2 linked regions of the Homo sapiens genome follow. The protein of the gene in region 1 interacts with the protein of each later gene in a biochemical or structural test. Each region holds a gene or a part of one and is shown on either strand. Other genes may lie near its edges.

The links.
Region 2: the proteins of NUDCD3 (region 1) and PAFAH1B1 form a complex in vitro, tested with the Homo sapiens proteins (one study listed by BioGRID).

The regions. Positions count from the first base shown.
Region 1 is NC_000007.14:44,487,425-44,494,593, forward strand, and holds the start of NUDCD3 (nudC domain-containing protein 3), read right to left. Parts: upstream 3,235-7,169; 5' UTR 3,177-3,234; coding exon 2,985-3,176; intron 1-2,984.
Region 2 is NC_000017.11:2,680,580-2,686,330, reverse strand, and holds the end of PAFAH1B1 (platelet-activating factor acetylhydrolase IB subunit beta), read right to left. Parts: intron 5,376-5,751; exon of another isoform or gene 5,097-5,375; intron 4,603-5,096; coding exon 4,529-4,602; 3' UTR 716-4,528; downstream 1-715. UniProt on the Homo sapiens protein: Regulatory subunit (beta subunit) of the cytosolic type I platelet-activating factor (PAF) acetylhydrolase (PAF-AH (I)), an enzyme that catalyzes the hydrolyze of the acetyl group at the sn-2 position of PAF and its analogs and participates in PAF inactivation.

The sequences.
Region 1 (7,169 bases):
CCAGGAAGGAGTCTTATGCCATCAAGTTAGGGACAGAAAAAAAAAAAAACCCTAAGAGGCAGATGAGTAGGAGTGGGGAGGTCAGGAGATCACCTACTACCACGAAGAAATAATGTTATGCTGGTACCAAGTCACTCAGTCTCATTCAGTGTTGTCCCACCCCACAATAAAACCCTTGTCAATACTGAAATCACCTTTACAAACCTCCTGTCAAATGAGCTTTTGTGGATAAAAGAACAGGTTCCAGCCAGGTGCAGTAGCTCATGTCTGTAATCCCAGCACTTTGGGAGGCTGAGGCGGGTGATCACCTGAGGTCAGGAGTTCAAGACCAGCCTGGCCAACACGGTGAAACCCCATTTCTACTACTAAAAATACAAAAATTCTCTAGGCATGGTGGTACATGCCTGTAAACCCAGCTACTCGGGAGGCTGAGGCAGGAGAATCACTTGAACCTGGGAGGAGGAGGTGCAGTGAGCCAAGATTGCGCCACTGCACTCCAGCCTGGACAACAGAATGAGACTCCATCTCAAAAATAAAAAATAAAAAAATAAAAAAAAGAACAGGTTCCCAGGATTCACCCTGATCTACCCAACCAAAATATCCAGGAATATGTGCTTTTAAAAGTTCCTTGGCCAGGCGCAGTGGCTCACACCTGTAATCCTAGCACTTTAGGAGGCCGAGGCAGGCAGAACACAAGGTCAGGAGTTTGAGACCAGTCTCGCCAACATGATGAAACCCCATCTCTACTAAAAATACAAAAATCAGCCGGGCGTGGTGGCGCACACCTGCAGTCCCAGCTACTCGAGAGGCTGAGGCAGGAGAATTGCTTGAACCCAGGAGGCGGAGGTTGCAGTGAGCTGAGATCATGCCACTGCACTCCAGCCTGGGCGACAGAGTGAGACTCCATCTCCAGGAAAAAAAAAAAAAAAAAAAGAAAGAAAAAAGTTCCTTAAGCGATGCTGATGGTTGAGAACCACTTCCAGAAAACATGACACCTCTCTTAAGCATCTGCTGGAGACTGTTGTCCCCTTGGTTTCTGTGAAACTTATTGCTCTCCACCAAGATTATTCCCCAAGGCCTGTTCTTCACCTTTGGCTCTTCTCTCTCCCTCGGACCACTCCAGTTGCTCTAGCTCCCAAAAGATCTAGTCCAGTAATTCCAATAGCCTATGGGCAGGGACTCCTACCTGCAACTTCAAGTTCAACCTGTCTAAAACTGAACTTTTTCCCCTAAACCCAGGTGACAGTTCAGTTAACGCATTATCACTATTCCAGTCACCCAAGTTGAAACCTTGGATCATCTTTGACCCATCCCTCCCCTTCCTCCATCCCTGCTCCCCATCTCCACTACTTCATTAGACTGGTCACCAAATCCTAACCTATGGAAGTGTCTTGTAAGAGGTGTTACCAGGTAAATGAGTTACCAGGTTAATGAGTGCTCTGTCAGTTCATCTGTGAAACAAAGACCAACCTCTCAGGTTATATTAAGGGTTAAATAAGATAACGACCCCAGAATATAAAACATCTGATACTATACATATTACTCAGTATATACTCCTTTCTCCTCCACATCTTTCTGCAAACTACAATCAATCTAGACAAAAGTGTTCTCATCCTACTATGGAATGGTTAAACAACAGAACAGGAAGATTTGGAATCCACAAAATGAAATTTTTAGTTTCAGCTCTACGGTGAACTGGCTGTGTGTTCTTGGTCAAATCACTTAACCTTGCTGAATTGGTACGTAAACTTGAAACTTATCTGTTTCACAGAGACACTGAAGATCAAATGGCAAGACTTCATTAACCTGCCATAAGATCCTGCTAAAGGCCACCTCCAACAGCTCTCTCATCACTAAGATGGCACTTATGCCACTGACAAGGACGAGGAATAGCCTTAAGTTCTGAAATTGAATCCTAATGGAACCCCATTCCTCGTTTGGCCCTATTACCCTGGTAGCTACCAAGACATTCAAAGCTTTGGCTTCTGCTGAGGAAAGTAACATCTTACCAACCTGCAGCATGCATTAAGACTTCAGGAGGAAACATCTGAAGCATTTTATAAACTGTAACATCTAGAGAACTGAGGGAGGTATCATCAGCATTTCTATCTTCTTGGGTTTCTACAAATAGGCTTAATACTTGGCTGAATAGTTTCTTTTAATCTCATCAGAAGTCCCACCTCTCTTATAAAAACTTCACTTCTCAACCATCATTTCTATTTCCTTTCTTTACAATGGGCTCCATCAAATAATTGCCCTTAAAAAGTTTTCTATTACTTTCTGGGTTTTCTCTCTTTAACTGTGTCACAAGGAGAGAGAAACCATTACTTAAACACCCGTATCACCCTCACCTGCGGCAACTAAGAGTGTAAACTACATTCAGCAAAAGGTTGCTTACCACTACATTCAAAAGTGCCCAGTCAACTTCACTGAATGAGTATTGACAGCGTTTCCAACATACAATAAACTTAACCTGGAGGGTACGGAATTAAGCTCAAATAGAAATTTTAATAAGCACTACATTGACAGTCTTTGACCTGGGAAGTCACATTTCAAACAAGCGACCACACCCATTGATCAACACAATGCCTCCGTCATCCCCGCCAGCTCAAGTCTTTGGTAGTTCTGGGGCATGCACGTTTCTGTTGCTGTAAATGTCCTTCCTTCTGTCTGGCCTGCATGGATTTCGCTCCCTGACTAGCGGCCCCCAGCACCGTGAGGGGTACGCGCTGGCGGGTGCTGAGTAGGGCTCTTAACAGTCGGCTTACTACTTCTGAAACCTCAGGACGTCCGGAGCGAACACCTCAGCGGAATAAGCTGACATCCAATCCGCGCTTCAAATTACTGAAGCCATTCTCACAAGCTCAACCCCAGGACACCAGGAAAAGGAGGAAACAGGCTGGGAGAGCTTGGAGGAGCGGGCGCCAGGAGTCAGGGCAGGCCGGGGGCGGCGGCTCCCCAGACCGCAGGCCCGCCCGCCTCACCTGCAGCACCAAGGCCTGCGCGGCCCCGGGCGGGAAGCCCATGCGGTCCGATGGGTGGCGCAGCAAGCGATAGAAGTCTGTCTTGCGGTAGAGGAAGCCAAAGAGAACGCGCAGGAAATCCTGGACGTTGCCCACGTGCTGCAGGATGCCCAAAAGGGCCTGGTCATACAGCTCGGCCGCCCCTGTCTCCATGTCGCCTCCCGCCCTAGGTACGCTTCACACACACAGCGCCGCCTCAGACCTGCCGACTGGCCACTTCCGGCGTCCGCAGCCAACGGCTCCGCCGGACGGCGCGGCTGCGGAACTTCCGGTCCGTGCTCGTTCGGCCCCCGCGGCCCCGGGCTGTTTTCCCCAGACCCAGCTGCCCCACGGGCTTTGCCTTGAGGTGGTCTTAGACAAAAGAGCCCGACAAGGGCAGCAAGGAGGTTCCTACGCGGAAGGAAGCCCGTGGCTTCTGCTGCGCTGCGAGGGCTTGACCGCCATGTTTGAAGCGGGCGGAAAAAAATTATGGGGCGTGCAGTGTCACGTGACTGCTCGGATTTTTGTCACGTTGTCTGTGGATCCTTTCTTATTTCTGTGTTGAATTCCAGCCTGGGTATTTGGAACCTATGGTTAAAGATGGGGCTAGGGTAAGCTTTTTGTTAGTGAGCCAGAGACGGGAAAATGCGTATATGTGGGATGTATGGGTTTCTTATTAACAGATCTGTGAGTTAAACTCAGGGCGTTGCATCAGAAGAAAGTCAAGATGACGAAGAAAATAAAGAGTGCATTCAACGTATATTAAGTGGAAAGAGCTAGATTCAGAATAGAGAATCCGTATGCCATCGTTGTGAAATATGTACGTGTATGTGTGTGTATAGTATGTATATACATATATACGTCATATATACATATGTTGTTAGTGTCTGTCAAAGTATAATCTTAAAAAAGTAAAAAGCATGACACTCATACAAATATATCATGAACACATATCCAAGATTTCTTCAGCAAATTAACAATGATATGGTAAAGCTGGTTCAAAAGCATTTTGAGGAAGTGGAGATTAAACATTTTGACAAAGCATTAGAGTAAGATTAGGTTGGATACAAAGCTGGCTGGTGTTCTACAAGATGATAAAACCATAGATTATCATTTCTAGTGTATAGAAATGATTTGCACCTCTTCTAGATTAAAACATGCAAGTTAACATGTCTTCATAGTGTATAAGCTTTAATGAATTGTAAATAAAATCCAACTCAGGTAAATTGCCCTAGAACAGTGGTTCTGAAACTCTTGATTTAGGGACCATTAATCCTCTTAAAATTTGTTGAACATTCCAAAGAACATTTGTTGATATGGGTTATGCTTATCAATATTTACCACATTAGAAATTAAAACATAAAATGTTTAAATATTTATTTAATCATTTTTAAATGACCATAAAACACATTACATGTTAACATACTTTTATGCAAAAAATAATGTTCTTCAAAGCAATAAAAGTTCAGTGAGAGGAGTAACATAGTTTTACATTTTTGCAAATCTCTTTAATGAGCCTACTAGAAGACAGCAAGATTTGGCCGGCACAGTAGCTCATGCTTGTAATCCCAGCACTTTGGGAGGCCGAGGCGGGAGGATCAGGAGTTCGAGACCAGCCTGGCCAACACAGTGAAACCCTGTCTCTACTAAAAATACGAAAATTAGCTAGGCGTGATGGCAGGTGCCTGTAATCCCAGCTCCTCTGGAGGCTGAGGCAGGAGAATCGCTTGAACCCGGGAGGCAGAGGTTGCAGTGAGCCGAGATCACACCACTGCATTCCAGCCTGGGCGACAGAGCTAGACTCCGTCTCCACAAAAAAAAAGAAGACCACAAGATTCTCACATCTGCATTCACTGCAACATAATTTGCATTATGTTGTTTTCATTGAAGTATATGAAAACATGCAACCTCACACAGACAGTTGCAAATGAGAGGAATATTTTGTCTTTTCAAATAAATGTGGCTATTTGTCTTTAAAATGACATCAAAATTCTTCTACAAGCGATAGTTTCTATTTTTTTTATTTTTAAGAGGCAGGGTCTCCCTCTGTCACCCAGGCTGGAATGTAACGATGTGATCATAACTAACTGTAGCCTTGAACTCTTGAACTCAAGCAATCCTCCTGCCTCAGCCTTCTGAGTAGCTGGAACTACAAGCACATGCCACTGTGCCTGGCTAATTTTTAAATTATTTTTATAGAGACGAGGTTGGGCCTACATTGTTCAGGCTGGTCTGAAACTCATGGGCTCAAGCGATCCTCCCCTCTCAGCCTCCCAAAGTGCTGGAATTATAGGTGTGAGCCACTGCACCCAGCCCTGTAACTGGTAGTTTCTTAAAGGTTACTTGCCATATGGAATCTAAAACTGTATCTATAGACTTTTCATACTCTGTTACATTAATATCGATTGGTCTTTCACTTTGAATGGATCGTTAATAAATGCATGATTTTATACCATCATGTATTAATTAGTCATTTGAAAATGTTGGTCCACTGTGTTATGCAGCTCTTCCAAATGTTCACTCGTTTTATGCAACGAGCATATCTTGCCCCCAGATCTTGGTTTCTAATATCATTTCATTATATAATATCAAAAAATAACATTTGTTAGAATTACCACTAAACTCATCAGAGAAGTCTGTCTTTATTGACAAGCACTCAAGCTCATGGAAGCGGGATATGGGTTTTTTGAATTCTAATTTTAGCTTAAAAACTTGAACTTTATTATTGGAAGTAGATACAATCAATTATTTTCCTTGAAGAGACAGGCTCACTTCATTCTGTCATTCAAGTAAAAATGATGCTCTGTGACTTGTTCAATTGGCAACTCAATCACACAAGTGCTTTGCATCAGTGCAACCATTTTGCTTCAGTATGAGGCAGACATGTCTTATGTGTACTTCTCTTTTAATCATGCACTATTAAAAAGACTTGTTCTCAAGTGGAGAACTTTTAATAAAACAACTTTTAATAAAATTAATAATTAAATGCTATCAGGAGCATTCTTAAGTGAAACTGAACATTTTTAACCTGTAAGTGTAAGGCAGTGCATACTAGTCGAGTTTGGTGCCGTTATGGACTGAATGTGCCTGCCCCCCACCAGATTCATATGTTGAAGCCCCAGTCCTCAATGGGACTATATTTGGAGTCACATTGGTGGTTAGAAGGGCCTTTAAAAGATACTTAAAGGTTAAATGAGGTTATAAGGGTGGGACCTTAACCCAATGGAACTGGTATCCTCATAAGAGGAGAAGGAGACACTAGAGATCTCACTCTGCACACATGCAGAAGAAAGGCCATGTGAGGACACAGTGAGATTGCTTCAAGCTAGGAAGAGAATTCTCACCAGATACCAACACCTTGGTCTTGGATTTCTGGCCTCCAAGACTGTGAGAGAATAAACATGTGTTGTTTAAGCCACCCAGTCTATGGTACTTTGTGACAGCAGGAAGCTAGGACAATGGCCTGCCTTGATTCCTGCTGAGACACTTGCAGTTTTACCTGCCATTGCTTTTGCACCATCATTGCAAATGTCAACATGGTAAAAAAGCAAATAACATCATAGTATTGTTATTTTTACCTTGGAGGCCCCCCAGGGCCACATACTACACTCTGAGAATCACTGCCCTAGAGAATTAATGAATCTCGGGTGAGCCTGTTATATAATTCCTCAGTATAACTGGAAGCACATGCAGTCATCTTCTTGCTATATTCAAAGTTTTGAATAATTTTCTTTAGCACCTAAAGGAAGAAATGGAACAGACGCTGCATCTGGAGAAGGGAAATTGAGGGAAACACTATAAAACAGGAGAAAAACTTACTTTTGTATTTGATACCATATACATGCATTACCTATTCAAAAAGTAAATAAAATATCTTTTTTTTTTTTTTGAAACAGAGTCTCGCTCTGTCGCCCAGGCTGGGGTGTAGTGGCACAGTCTCAGCTCGGCTCACTGCAAGCTCCGCCTCCTGGGTTCACGCCATTCTCCCGCCTCAGCCTCCCGAGTAGCTGGGACTACAGGTGCCCGCCACCACACCCGGCTAATTTTTTGAATTTTTAGTAGAGACGGGGTTTCACCATTCACAGGATGGTCTCGATCTCCTGACCTTGTGATCCACCCGCCTCAGCCTCCCAAAGTGCTGGGATTACAGGCGTGAGCCACCGTGCC
Region 2 (5,751 bases), on another chromosome or scaffold:
GTAGGGCACCTTGAATACACCACAGATACAGCCATGTGTAAAGTGCAGAGCTGGGGTTTCTGGGACAAAGATGAACACTCTTATTTTGTATGTTTCAACCAAAATCGAAAACAGTATTAAGGATTTACTTTTATGATTCCAAGACCACTGAGCAAGATTAGAGGCTAACAGAACAAAGGGGGTAGGGCCCCATCTTTTTTTTTTCCTTTTTGTGGAGAACGGGGTCTCGCTATATTGCCCAGGGAGGTCCCGAACTCCTGGGCTCAAGCTATCCTCCCGTCTCTGCCTCCCCAAGAGCTGGGATTACAGGCGTGAGCCACCGCGCCCGGCAGGGCCCCTTATCTCTAGACTCTGTCCCCAAGAGTCTAGTCTTGGGCCTGTAACCAGCCATCCTGGCTTTGGCTCTCTGGCCACAGCGATAGCCACAGTCAGAACGGGCTGCTGGGAGGGTTGGGGAGAGCGGGCCTGTGCCGCAGACGCATGCCATGGCAAGGCTCAGGCTGAGGCACTCCCTCCTCCACCCGGGGGAAGGGGGACAGCAAAGCCAGTTCGGGTGCTGCCCTGAAGGAAAGCAGCTCATGAGGCCTTACTGCCCTGACACCGATTCGTGTCACTCTTTGTGACTGGAGCTACACACAGCCCCACTTTCTATCAGCATTTCCCCTGTGCAAAGGAAGACAAAAAAAAAAAAAAAAAAAAAAAAAAAAATCACATCTAGTTTTATAGGCATTTAATAGTTTACCAGTTGGTACAATAAGATTTTTTAATATGCAGAAAACATGAATAAATTTTGTTTTACACAGTCTGAGAGCAACAAATCTTACTGTAAAACACGAGAGCAATATTATATACATTCCTTTACTGATTTTTTAAAATTGTGTCAATATCTTCAGTGAACTCTTAACAATCTGGGGAACTGTTTTCCTCAATTACCACTTCAGCAACGTTCATACGAAATCAAGGCTTGCCTTCATGTCAGTGTCAGGATCAACTTTAACTCGAAGAGTTTGTGTTTGTCTCTAACATCTTCAGAGTGAGCTTTAGGGATGCCTGAAGGATGGACAGTACAAGCAAGCAGCTACTTCCATGATACAGTGGGAAGATAAAAAGGCCCATTCAGTCCAGCCGTGACCTGTAAATCCAGCTTGCCCTCCCCCCACCCCACTGGAAAAAAAATCCAAAACCTTTTTCCACCAGTTTTTTACATGTCGCTTCTCTACCAGGAGATTCTTTGCGTCATCTAGATGAACACACTGGACTTATATACAGCTGGACATGAAAGTAACCAATTTAAGTGCCTTTTCCTTCAACAATTTTAACTTCAGTTGCTTAAGGATGATCGAGCCACCGATGTCAACAAAATATCCTTTACCTTTAAATAGTTTTTCTTTAATTAAGTTTAAAGAAAACCTATTTAACGAGTGATATTACCGGGAAAGTTCACACAGAAACAGAAAGAGGCGAACGGGAGAGCAGGGCACTGGCAGCGGGGAGGCGGGGCTTGGTAAATCTAAAGCCAAAGCTTCCAAAGACTACGGCGAACGCTCCCCAGCCCGGGACGACTTGCTAACACTAGTGATTTTGAGAGTAGTGCTCTGGGCACACCATTGGTCACACCACACACAGACGAACCAGGACGGTCTTAGTCTCCTAAAGTGCAAGATGCCGTGACAACAGGCAACTAGGCTCCACGCGGTGTCTAAACCAGTCTCCATGGCATGCACTCTCAAGAGCGCAGCTAGGATTTCTTGGGCACGTTACAGATATATATTTGGGTGGCACTGGAATGTCTGTTTTCACACACACACACAGTCAATAATCATCTGAGGATGCAATTCTACCAGCTCTTTATTTCTTAAGTGGCCAATTTGATTGAGAAAGTGACAAAGCAGCAGTGAACCTCTAAACCAATTAATAAAAGTCCTCTACTTACAATCCAAACCAGTAACCTCATCATTGTCCTTATCCCAGGCAAGGCACAGGGTTAGACAGCAGACAGAGAAAACAGAGAACACAGTCAGAAAGGGCATCAACAGGACAGTGTCAGACAGCAGTGCAGGAAATTTTGCAAATCTGATTCCAGGTTGTAGACGGACTGCTCTCCCCCACCCCTTCGTTATTAAACAGGGCTCATTACATGTGGACCCAGTTGTGGGCCATCCCTGAGATTCAATGTTCGCTGCTTCTCACATGGAGGATGTCTGGTAACTCAACTCAGCAGCAGGCTGTGGCAATCTCCCAAGTAAGGATAACTTTGTTTACAGAGTAATCGTTTCCTCCTCCTTTGTCAACGCAAGTCGCTGTGTGCTGCAGGGGAAGACACGCTTGCTTCCTCCTGCATCGGTACCATTCTCCTTTATTGTTCAATATCTATGAGTGATTTCTAGATGTTGTGGCTTACCCTTAAACAATTCATGCTAAAAATGAATTAAAATACAAGACATTTATACATGTACAAACAAATGTTAAGATGCACCATTTCTATGTATTTATATTTCTCAAAATAGGACAGAAAATAGCAGCAAACAAGAACAAAGATATTTTCCATAGTTTTTGTAGAAAAATCCAGTCAGAAGAGCTAAGGGAAAAAGACTTTTCAATGTAAGCAGGGTTGTGAGGCAATATTGTCCTGAAAATTCACCTACTGTATGTATTTAAGGAATTAGCTTAAGATGTAATTTTTGTCCTCAAAAATAGCCATTAGTTCTCAAAACTTTCCCTTCCAGAGACATCTCTCAGGAATCTAAAAACAAACAAGCAAACAAACAAAAAGACACAAGCTAGACATAAAGCTGCTTCTAGTTAATATACGGCCTAGTCTCTGTGTGTATCTACAGGACGCTAACTCTCACCCTTTGTCTTTTGCAGGAACCAATTTTCCATTAAATACTAAAGGGGACATTTAAAAAATCACATAGTACACAAATGAATAAAACGCAGTTCAGAATTTTATCTTTGTTAAACTGTCACTGTTATCTCATTGTTCTGTTAACTTTTCAAATAACTCTCTTGGAAACAAAAAAAACCTGTTGGTTAGCTAAGCAATGGAATTCTTTATTAATAACTGACAATGGAATAGTGCTCCAAAAGTCATGGCTAAAAATTCTCTTAAACCTACCTGTAACTTTGGGTCAAAATATACAACATATCCGGGTTGTGTAAAATGTCGAGCGGCTAAATTAGAGGGGGACATAACGGAAGTGATTTTCCTTCGGCTGGAAAAAAATCCCCAGAGTCAGACCTAGTTTTCAGAAGCATTAAGATCAAAAAGGGTTTGTTCTAAAGCATGGCATTCCACAGCAACATTTATTCTACTTGTCCGTTTTAGCACTTTTTCAAAAACCCAGGACTAAGGACATGGAGGTTGATGTGTATGATACACACATACAGACTTATCCACTTACAGATAGGCCCATATACTTACAAACATTTACATATAAACAAAAGGTGAAAACAGTACATTTTTATGCACGCTCCATTAAACCCTGTCATTTTTTTAAAACTTGTAAGTGAAACACAGTTTAAATCAATATCAGATTCATGTTGAAAAACAAACTGCTGTATTCCTCCCACTCCTTTCAAATGGGCACACAGAACCTTCTCAGTATTTCTGTCATTATGTAATGCACATTGCACATCCCTAAAAAACACCAAAAACGAATAGTGATTTGTACCATGACACACTCAATGGGGAGATTAAATTCTACTTGGAAGTCACATCACTACACAGTCTAATAGTATGGAGAATACAACTAGAAGTATGTCCAGTGTGGAAAATAGAAGCTTAGAGTATGACAGTATTTTTTGACCTGTTTACAAAGCATTAAGACCAAAATGAAATAAATGAGTTGCTATTAGCTGCTGAGATTTTTCTTGAGATTTACAGTCATTTTCTTACATAAATATACCACTAGCCTCTGCGTGATAGGCTGCCAAAACAAATATATCCTACTGATTTGGCAAATGTGTCATGACAAAAATTCCAATGTATAATCCCCATTCATTACATAGATGGTTCAGAAGATTCTGAATTGTAGCCTTATCATCTAAAATCCTTACAGAAGATTTATTAAGCACACTTAAGTGATGTTACATAGATACACATTTCAGAAAAAGCCCTAATAACCACCACTTTTCCCCAAATGAGGCCATCAAGTCAGGCACCAACAGATAGCAGAAAGAAAAACAGGAATTAATAATCCAACATAAAATGACACTGTCAACTATTCAGTTTAGTGCCCTAGTTCAATTGATTCAACTTCTGCCTTCTTAGGCCTGGTGTGACCAATGCCAGCCCAGGTTTTTAAACCCTATGGTACTTCTAGACAACGTATGTAAATTTACAGTATACAATTTGGATTCACCATGCATGAATACTTTGTGTGTAACATTTAATAAGCTCAATCTACATCCAGAATAATTTACATGAAAGGACAATATTTATTTAAACAGAGCTCAATGGGGTAACCATGGTATCATCAGAGTGCATCCAGAGGAAAAGAGGGAGGAGGGGCCGAAGGAGACACAATCAACGGCACTCCCACACTTTTACTGTTTGATCTACGCTGCCAGTGACGACATAGGGTGCCGTCTTGTGGAAATCTGAAAGAAAAAGAAATGGTTTATTTAAAACTCACACGTAAGCCTGGACAACAAACATAGTGAGACCCCCTCTCTACAAAATACAAAATTAAAAAAAAAATTAGCCGGGCATGGTAGTGTGTGCCTGTAGTCCCAGCTACTCGGGAGACTGATGCAGAACTGTTTGAGCTGGGAAGTCGAGGCTGCAGCGAGCCATGACTGCACCACTGCACTCCAGCCTGGGTGACAGAGCAAGACCCTGCCCGGTCCCAACCCTCCATCACACTGAGCCAGATACAATTTTTAATGAGCCACAAAATTCTAAGAAAGTCCAAATGCCAGTAGTTTTCGTGTTTCTCTAATATACCATAACCCAAGAAGGTATCTAGTTTGCCAATTCAGTTAGGGAAGTTGAGACTCAATGATCAAATCCTGTATTAACATCTCAATAAAAACGCCTGTTCCTCTTTGGCCCATCCCAAATGGGGCTCAAATCCTTTTTCTTCTTTTTTCAAAGGCAGGGTCTCACTATGTTGCCCAGGCTGGAGTGCAGTGGCTGTTCAAAGGTGCGATCCCACTACTGATCAGCAAGGGAGTTTTGACCTGCTCTGTTTCTGACCTGGGCCAGGTCACCCCTCCTTAGGCAACCTGGGAGTCTCCTGTTCCCAGGAGGTCACCATATTGATGCTGCACTTAGTGCAAACATCCCATCAGCACAGCACACTGTAACCCAGAACTCCTGGGCTCAAGCAATCCTCCAGCCTCAGCCTCCTGAGTAGCTGGGACTAAGGCACAGCAGGGCTCAAATCTAACAATACACAGTCTCGCCATATCCATTTACTGAACACGATGTTCCAGGCATGGCATAAATGCTCCGTATTTGTGCCTAATCCTTGAACCAATCCTGTGAGGCAGGTATTAGCCCACCTTACGCAGGCTTTGGTCCATTATACTTTAGTGCATTTATTATACTTGACTGTATTCACTCTCTTAAATTCCAGATTCAAGTCCAGATGATAGTGAGGATGTTTACTCAAATCAAATACAATTTTCTGAGTTTCTAGTATCTGATAGTATACACCTGCCAGTGGGAAAGGTTGAGGAAGATTTTGTTTGAGAAACAAACTAATAGGGGAGAAAAATTACCCATCAGAGTGGTAAGTAACCTCT